Linked DNA regions of Homo sapiens. The protein of the gene in region 2 interacts with the protein of the main gene of each other region in a pairwise test. Each region holds a gene or a part of one and is shown on either strand. Other genes may lie near its edges.

Evidence for each region.
Region 1: the proteins of CROCC (region 2) and RNF152 interact in a two-hybrid assay, tested with the Homo sapiens proteins (one large-scale study listed by BioGRID and IntAct).

Annotation. Positions count from the first base shown.
Region 1 is NC_000018.10:61,816,346-61,820,159, forward strand, and holds part of RNF152 (E3 ubiquitin-protein ligase RNF152), read right to left. Parts: intron 254-3,814; 5' UTR 119-253; coding exon 1-118. UniProt on the Homo sapiens protein: E3 ubiquitin-protein ligase that acts as a negative regulator of mTORC1 signaling by mediating ubiquitination of RagA/RRAGA and RHEB.
Region 2 is NC_000001.11:16,966,617-16,970,197, forward strand, and holds part of CROCC (rootletin), read left to right. Parts: intron 1-1,586; coding exon 1,587-1,802; intron 1,803-2,499; coding exon 2,500-2,724; intron 2,725-3,168; coding exon 3,169-3,318; intron 3,319-3,581. UniProt on the Homo sapiens protein: Major structural component of the ciliary rootlet, a cytoskeletal-like structure in ciliated cells which originates from the basal body at the proximal end of a cilium and extends proximally toward the cell nucleus.

The DNA.
Region 1 (3,814 bases), on a different chromosome or scaffold from region 2:
GCAGGCACACTGAACAGCAGGTGTGCTTGCAGTCCAGCAACTTGGGCCTGCGCCGGGGGCTGTAGTAATTGAAACAGATCTGACATTCCAGCAGAGAGTCCTGGGACAGCGTCTCCATGGTGGACCGTGAGCAGGAAGGGCAAGGCCAAGGTGAAGGGGAAGGAGCTGCTTCTCAGAGGCCACCGCCCTGTGTCTTTGCAGTGCAGGTAATGGCAAGCTCACAGGCATCCAGTACTCACAGGTGTGTTCATTTCTGAGAGAGACAAATAATGCAAACAATCTTAATTATTTCAAAGAAGTTGAGATGTCAACATATCTAATGGATTTATACCATTGCTCAAAAGTCTTGACACTGGGCCAAAAGCCTAAAAATTTACCAGTCTTGAGACTACAGGATTCCCATAACGCCCAGTGAAAGGCGAATGAAAGTTGTCTCAGAGAGCATGTCATGGCAAATACTTAGTTCATTTCTAAAAAAATGAACAACTCCAATAGTTGTAGACGATGCATCTGTATTTCATAAAGAGGGCGTCTTTTGTTTCTGTTTTGTACATTTAAGCAAGCTCTGGGTCATCCTTCTAAAATATACTAGAGAAACTTTCCTGCTTCCAATAAGTTCATAGTATTTCCTAGAAGTAAATTTCTCTCCTTAGATCCTCTGACCTTTTTTCCTGACTCTACTTACCCACTTGTAAGTCTTAATTGCAAGATTTAGGCAACTTCACAAACCTAGGTACTTCCTATAACTAACTCGCTCAGTTTACATATATGGGTTAGGATTGTTCCTCTTCACAGAGAAGTAAAGTGACACTGCAGAAGAAGCACACGAAGGCATCTTTCATCTTTCCCAACAAATCATTTGAAGAGAACAAAACAAAAAACCCCAAACAGCAACAAAACCAAAAGCAGCAGTGAAGCTTAAGGCAGTGTGGATCACAAAGGCACACTCATCACAAAGGCATCACTGACATTTTCCAGTCAGTTCTTTTTGTTTCATTACTACTTAGGCTTGTACCAAGTAACACAACTAAAAGCAAGTACGATTGACCCATGAACAACACAGGTTTGAACCACATGGATCCACTTAAGTACGAATTTTTTGAATAGATACGGTCAGCCCTTTCTATGAGTGGGTTCTGCATCTGCGACCAAATGACATCAAAAATACAGCGTTCTCAGGATGCAAAGCCCCTGTATACCGAGGGCCATCTTTTCATATTCTTGGGTTTTATAGCACCAACTGTGGGCCTTGAGTATTCACAGGTTTTGGTATACATGGGGGTCCTGGAACCAATGCCCTCAGATAGAGAGATGACTGAACCATTAATTCACTAATTGAAATCAAATATTCTATAGTTAAAGGTTGACAGGGAAGTCTGGCAAGCATTCCTCATTGTAAAAAAAAAAAAAAAGTGTTAGCATCCTGGTATGGAGGGGAGGCAGAGAAACTTAGTTCAACTTCACTGAAGTTTGGGAATGTCCTCTAACGCTCCACTGGCATTTCAGTAAGGGCTGCCTGACTCAGTTTCCCATTGAAAGCATCCAAATTATGTGTCCCTGGATGGAGCCATGATGACTCTAGAAAGAATTACTCAACCACTATTGCAGAAAAAATTGCTAGTCCTAGAACCCCACCAACACCTAGAGATGGGAGCTATAACACTCCTTCACATTTGTCTTAAAAGTGACCCTTCTTTTTCCTTTCCAATTTCCTTTGTGAAATTAAGAAAGCACTCCCCCATCATGATATATAATGTGTTAACAATCAAAATTAAGAATGCACCAAAAACCAACCTGGCCGGCGTGGGGGCTCACACCTGCAATCCCAGCACTTTGGGAGGCCGAGGAGGGGGAATCGTTTGAGCTCAGGAGTTTGAGACCAGCCTGGGCAACATGGTGAAACCCTATCTCTACAAAAAATACAAAAACTAGCCAGGCATGGTGGCAAGCACCTCTAGTCCCGGCTACTCAGTAGGCTGAGGTGGGAGGACCACCTGAGCCTGGGAGGTTGAGGCTGCAGTGAGCCGTGTTTGCACCACTGCACTCCAGCCTGGATGACAGAATGAGACCCTGTCTCAAATTAAAAAAAAAACAAAAAACAAAAAACAAGAAAAAGCAAACCAGTTCAAAGACAAAAATAACCACTGTTAAAAACTAGTAACAATGAAAAGATCAACATACTTTAAAATACATTAGCTATATTAGAAACACTTAAGTTACTGAAAGTGAAATACAGTAATGTAGCATTCAGGAAGTTCATATCAGGATCAACTACATAGCTATCCACTAATTCAAAAAATATTTATGGAATATCTATTATGCACAAAGCACAAAGCTAAATACTGTAGGATATAAATCAGACCCAGATTCTACCCGAAAACAACTTAAACCTAGGTAAGAAGGAACACACGAATATATTTTTTCTTTCATTCATTTATTCATTCAAATTTTCATTGCATATCTACTATGTGTCAAGCGTGATGTTCCTTTTTGTCCCTTGTAACTAAGATCTTGTCATTGCCCATAAGAAAGTCCTGGCCTAGAGATGGGAGCGCTAAGTACTTAGACAATTGTAACGTAAATACAAGGTACCCTAAGGGAGCCGAAGGAATCAGGGGGAATTTAGTGAAAAATCTGGATTATCGAATTAGACACAAAAAATCAGGGGACAGGCTATTTTCAGGTTATGGAATCAGCATGAGCAAAGGAAAGAAGGTAAGCGATTACAGAATTATTTTCTATTCTACCTGGGACACTGGCTAGAGGATTGTTTCTAATACTAGAGCAACTTACAGAAGTCTTCTCTAAGAGTTTGATCGTTTTAGCCCTTACAGTCTCTGATACAGATGTCTTTTAAAGAAATAAAACTCTCAGAGAACCTGCAAGCACTCTCCCCAGACCCAACCAGGGATAGCAGATCCCACAGGGAGGGGAGAAATGAGCTTAGTCAGGCACAGGCCAGAGACTGTGGACCGTGGGCAGCCCCCAGTGCCAGGCCAAGGATTCAGGAGTTTAGAGTGAGCAATGGGAAAACACCAGAAAGGTTAAGAGTAGCAGAACAATTCATTCAAGGGTAGACTGGAAAGACCTATTGGGAGGCTATTACATTAGGCAAGAGTTAAATGAGTAGCTGAAGTGAATAGTGATGATTAGGACAGAATGATGAGATGTGAGAAGAGGTTCACAGAATTCCAGCAGGATCTTGCAGGGTATTGCAATGAGGTTGTACAGTGAAAGAAGCCAAAAATGAAGCCTTTAGAGGAAGGTAATATCATTATGAGAAATAGGGATCATGAAGAGAAATACAATGAGTTCTGTTCAGGCCATATTCCACTGGAGGTGCTGGGGAAGGTATTTAAGTTATTTAGGAAGATATTAAAGAGTCAAAGAGAAGGTCAGGCACAGTGGCTCACGCCTGTAATCTCAGCACTTTGGGAGGCCAAGGCAGGTGGATCACTTGAGGCCAGGAGTTTGAGACCAGCCTAGTCAACATAACGAGACTCTGTCTCTACTAAAAATAAAAAAATTAGCTGGGTGTGGTGGTGGACACCTGTAATCCCAGCTACTCAGGAGGCTGAGGCAGGATAATCACTTAAACCCGGGAGGCGGAGATTGCAGTGAGGCAACATCGCACCACTGCACTCCAGCCTGAATGACAGAGTGGGACACTATCTCAAAAAAAAAAAAAAAAAAAAAGAATCCGGCCGGGCATGGTGGCTCACGCCTGTAATCCTAGCACTTTGGGAGGCTGAGGCAGGCGGATCACGAGGTCAGGAGATCGAGACCATCCTGGCTAATATGGTGAAACCCCGTC
Region 2 (3,581 bases):
CCCGAGTGAGTGTCTAACTCTTATGTGTGTCTCCCTGTGTCTGTCTGCCTGAGTCTCTCTGCAACCCACTGAGGTGACCAGCCTGTGACTCTGTGAAACCATGTTCAGACTCCATCCTCTCATGTCACTTGTGGTCACTAGGCTGTAGAAAAAAGAGCTTGGTCAAGGTGCAGTAGCTCATGCCTGTAATCCTAGCACTTTGGGAGGTCGAGGCAGGTGGATCCCTTGAGCACAGGAGTTTGAGACCAGCCTGGGCAACATGGTGAAACCCCGTCTCTATGAAAAATACTTAGCTGGGCATGGTGGTGTGGGCCTGTAGTCCCAGCTACTCGGGAGGCTGAGGTGGGAAGATCACTGGAGCCCGGTAGGTCGAGGCTGCAATGAGCTGTGATCATGCCACTGCACTCTAGCAAGGCAGAGTGAGACCCTGTAAAAAAGAAAAGAAAAAAAAAAGAAGAAGAAGAAGAAAAGAAAGAGAGCTTGGGCTTTGGGCTGTCATCTGCCTGGTTTTCATTTTCCTAATCTGTAAAAGGAGGAGCAGTGATTACGTCACAGGGTGACACACACAGGCTCTTATCACAGGTGGTACTCAGGGGGCCTCTGTTTTATGTCTCTGTAGTTCTGGGGTTTTTATGTGTGTTTGGGGGACAGCTATGTGTGCCAGTGTGTATGTGCGTCTGTCGGGCAGGAAACTCAGGCCCTGGTGGTGACAGTGCAGCCAAAGCTCCCCTCTGCCCTCCCCAGCCTGTCCCTCTATTACTGCTTCCCCCCACCACCCCCGCCCCCAAGGCCTCTGGCCTGGGGCCGAGCTTAGCTGGATTGTTGTGTCTGCGGCTTCAACCCTGGCCATGGGCCCAGCCGCAGGGGCTGCAGGAGGAGGCCAGGAACAAAGCTGGGCAGGAGCCAGAGTGGGGGCCCCAGACAGGGCAGGGCTGGGGCTCTGGGCAGGGTGGCAGAGGGGCCAGGCTCAGGATAGGGGCTGGGGAGGCTCTAATAACACCCCCTGTTGATCCACCCTGTCTCTAGGATAGTACCAGGGATGGGAGGACCCCTAGTCTGCCTTCCTGTCCCATCCCCACTCCCCAGGCCTTTTTCACTGGCTGACCCTGGGCAGGGGAGGGGGAATCACCACCTGAAACCCTAGAACAGCAGGGCCCCCTCAGAACTGTCCGGCTCAGCTCAGTTTGCACGAGTCAGTGGGGCAGGAGAAGGGCCTTGGAATCTGCATTTCTACAGCCCCTCCTCAGGGCTCCTGTGAGCACCCAGGTTGTGGTACCCTGGGACCAATCCAGTGTCCCTACTGTACAGATATGAAATGGGGCCATAGGGCGCGAAGGGGCAGTCCTGGGTTCCACAGCCCATTGGCCTGGGCTAAAACTGGAAGGTGGGCTCTGGGATCTTCACGTCCACTCATCCTGGGAACGCATGGGGAGACCGAGGACCCCAGAGGGTCCCAGGCCGGCCCCAGGTCACGTAGGTCACCCTTCGAGGCTGCTCCCCACTTTCCCCCTAAGGGCCCCAGGGCGTGTGCGGGAGGGCTGCGGGGTGCACTGGACGTCTGGGCCTGAGCCCCATGCCACCTGCAGGAGAAGATCAGCAAGATGAAGGCCAATGAGACAAAGCTGGAGGGCGACAAGCGGCGCCTGAAGGAGGTTCTGGACGCCTCCGAGAGCCGCACTGTCAAGCTGGAGCTGCAGCGGCGCTCGCTTGAGGGGGAGCTGCAGCGCAGCCGCCTGGGCCTCAGTGACCGCGAGGCCCAAGCCCAGGCCCTCCAGGATCGGGTGGATTCCCTGCAGAGACAGGTGGGCCCCTCCCCAAATCACAGCCACAGTGTTCACATGCCCTGTGCCAAGAGCTTTGTAGGCACTACGCAGTCCCCCAACAACCCTGTGAGGCAAGTATTACCCACATCCCCATTTCACAGATGGACAAATGGAGGCTGAGAGGTGATGTCATTGTCTAAGATCCCATAGCTAGTAAGAGGCAGAGCCAAAATTAGAATTCAGGACTATTTGATGACAGCATCTGCATACATAGGAGTCATCTGGGACAAGTTAGAGATGTAGGTTTCACTCATTTCCCTTTTTGCCTTGACTGCTAGGAAGCTCAGCTCTAACTGGAATGTTAAATAATACGGCTAGCCTTGCCTGAACACCCAACAAGGTCAAAAATAAAAAAATTTTAGGGTCGTGGTGGTTTCCCTTTCTCTTCCACAGCAGAGAGGAGAGAGGAGTGAGGACAGGGAGGAGACCAGGGAGTCTGAGACAACTAGGTTGATGGCACTCTGGGCACTAGTAGTTAGCCAGCAATGGGATGGGGCCCAGGTGGCAGTAGGCTGAGCCAGCAGGAGTGCTTAGGAACACTGGGTCTCAATGATGGAGGCCCAGAGAGAAGTGGGAAGGGTGTGGATTGGGCATGCCAGGTGGAGGTCACAGTGGGAGCAGAGGTATAGAGGCCAGATGGGAACAGCCCCGATTGTTCTGGCTGTCCTCCTGCCAGGTGGCCGACAGCGAGGTGAAGGCAGGGACCCTGCAGCTGACCGTGGAGCGGCTGAATGGGGCCCTGGCTAAGGTGGAGGAAAGCGAGGGGGCCCTGCGGGACAAGGTGCGGGGCCTGACAGAGGCCCTGGCCCAGAGCAGTGCCAGCCTCAACAGCACCCGGGACAAGAACCTGCATCTGCAGAAGGCTCTGACCGCCTGTGAACATGACCGCCAAGTACTCCAGGTCTCGGGCCCAGGGTCTGGCTGGGGTGGGCCCAGTGAGAGAGTCAGCCAGTAAGAGCAGGCTTGGAGGGGGGCCCTGGTAGAGAGCCAGCCAATGGGGCAGTCAGTTGGAGCCAATGAGAGCAGGCTTTGAAGGGAGGGCGTGGGCCCAGTAGACCATCAGCCAAGGAGAAGAGGCTCTGGGTATGTCCCGTAAGAAGACAAGGCTACTGGTATAGACTTGGGGGGACCCAGGGGCAGGGTTTATTGGGGAGAGTTGGGGTCTGAGTGGGTCCCACCTTATGCAGGTCAGTGGATAGGCCGTGGATGGGTTTGGTGTGCACCCCACCCTCCAGGTGAGATGACTGCCTGTTTTATGCTCTGTGGACCTGTCCAGAGGTACAGAATAGAGAGGACTCCTTAGGGCTCCCAGGCCAGCCAGGCACCATCAGCCCCTGTCCCCCAGGAACGGCTGGATGCCGCCCGGCAGGCATTATCTGAGGCACGGAAGCAGAGCAGCTCCCTGGGCGAGCAGGTGCAGACGTTGCGAGGCGAGGTGGCTGACCTGGAACTGCAGCGGGTGGAGGCCGAGGGCCAGCTACAACAGCTACGGGAGGTGAGGGCCAGGGTGTGCCCCCTCTGTCCCCAAGACTGTGAGGCCCTAGGATAGGGTGGGGACGTTCCCACCCATCTCAACCTCATCCCAAACCCTGGTGCAGCCTCCAGTAAGGAAACATGGTTCATTCAGAGCATAGTCCTGTTATACAGATGGAGAAACAGACTGAGAGAGACAGGTTTGGCTTCAGGTGACAATTCTCTGATGTGGGCCTCACCGTCGCCTGCTCTGTGAGTGGGCCAGCCTCATTGTCCCCAAGCTTC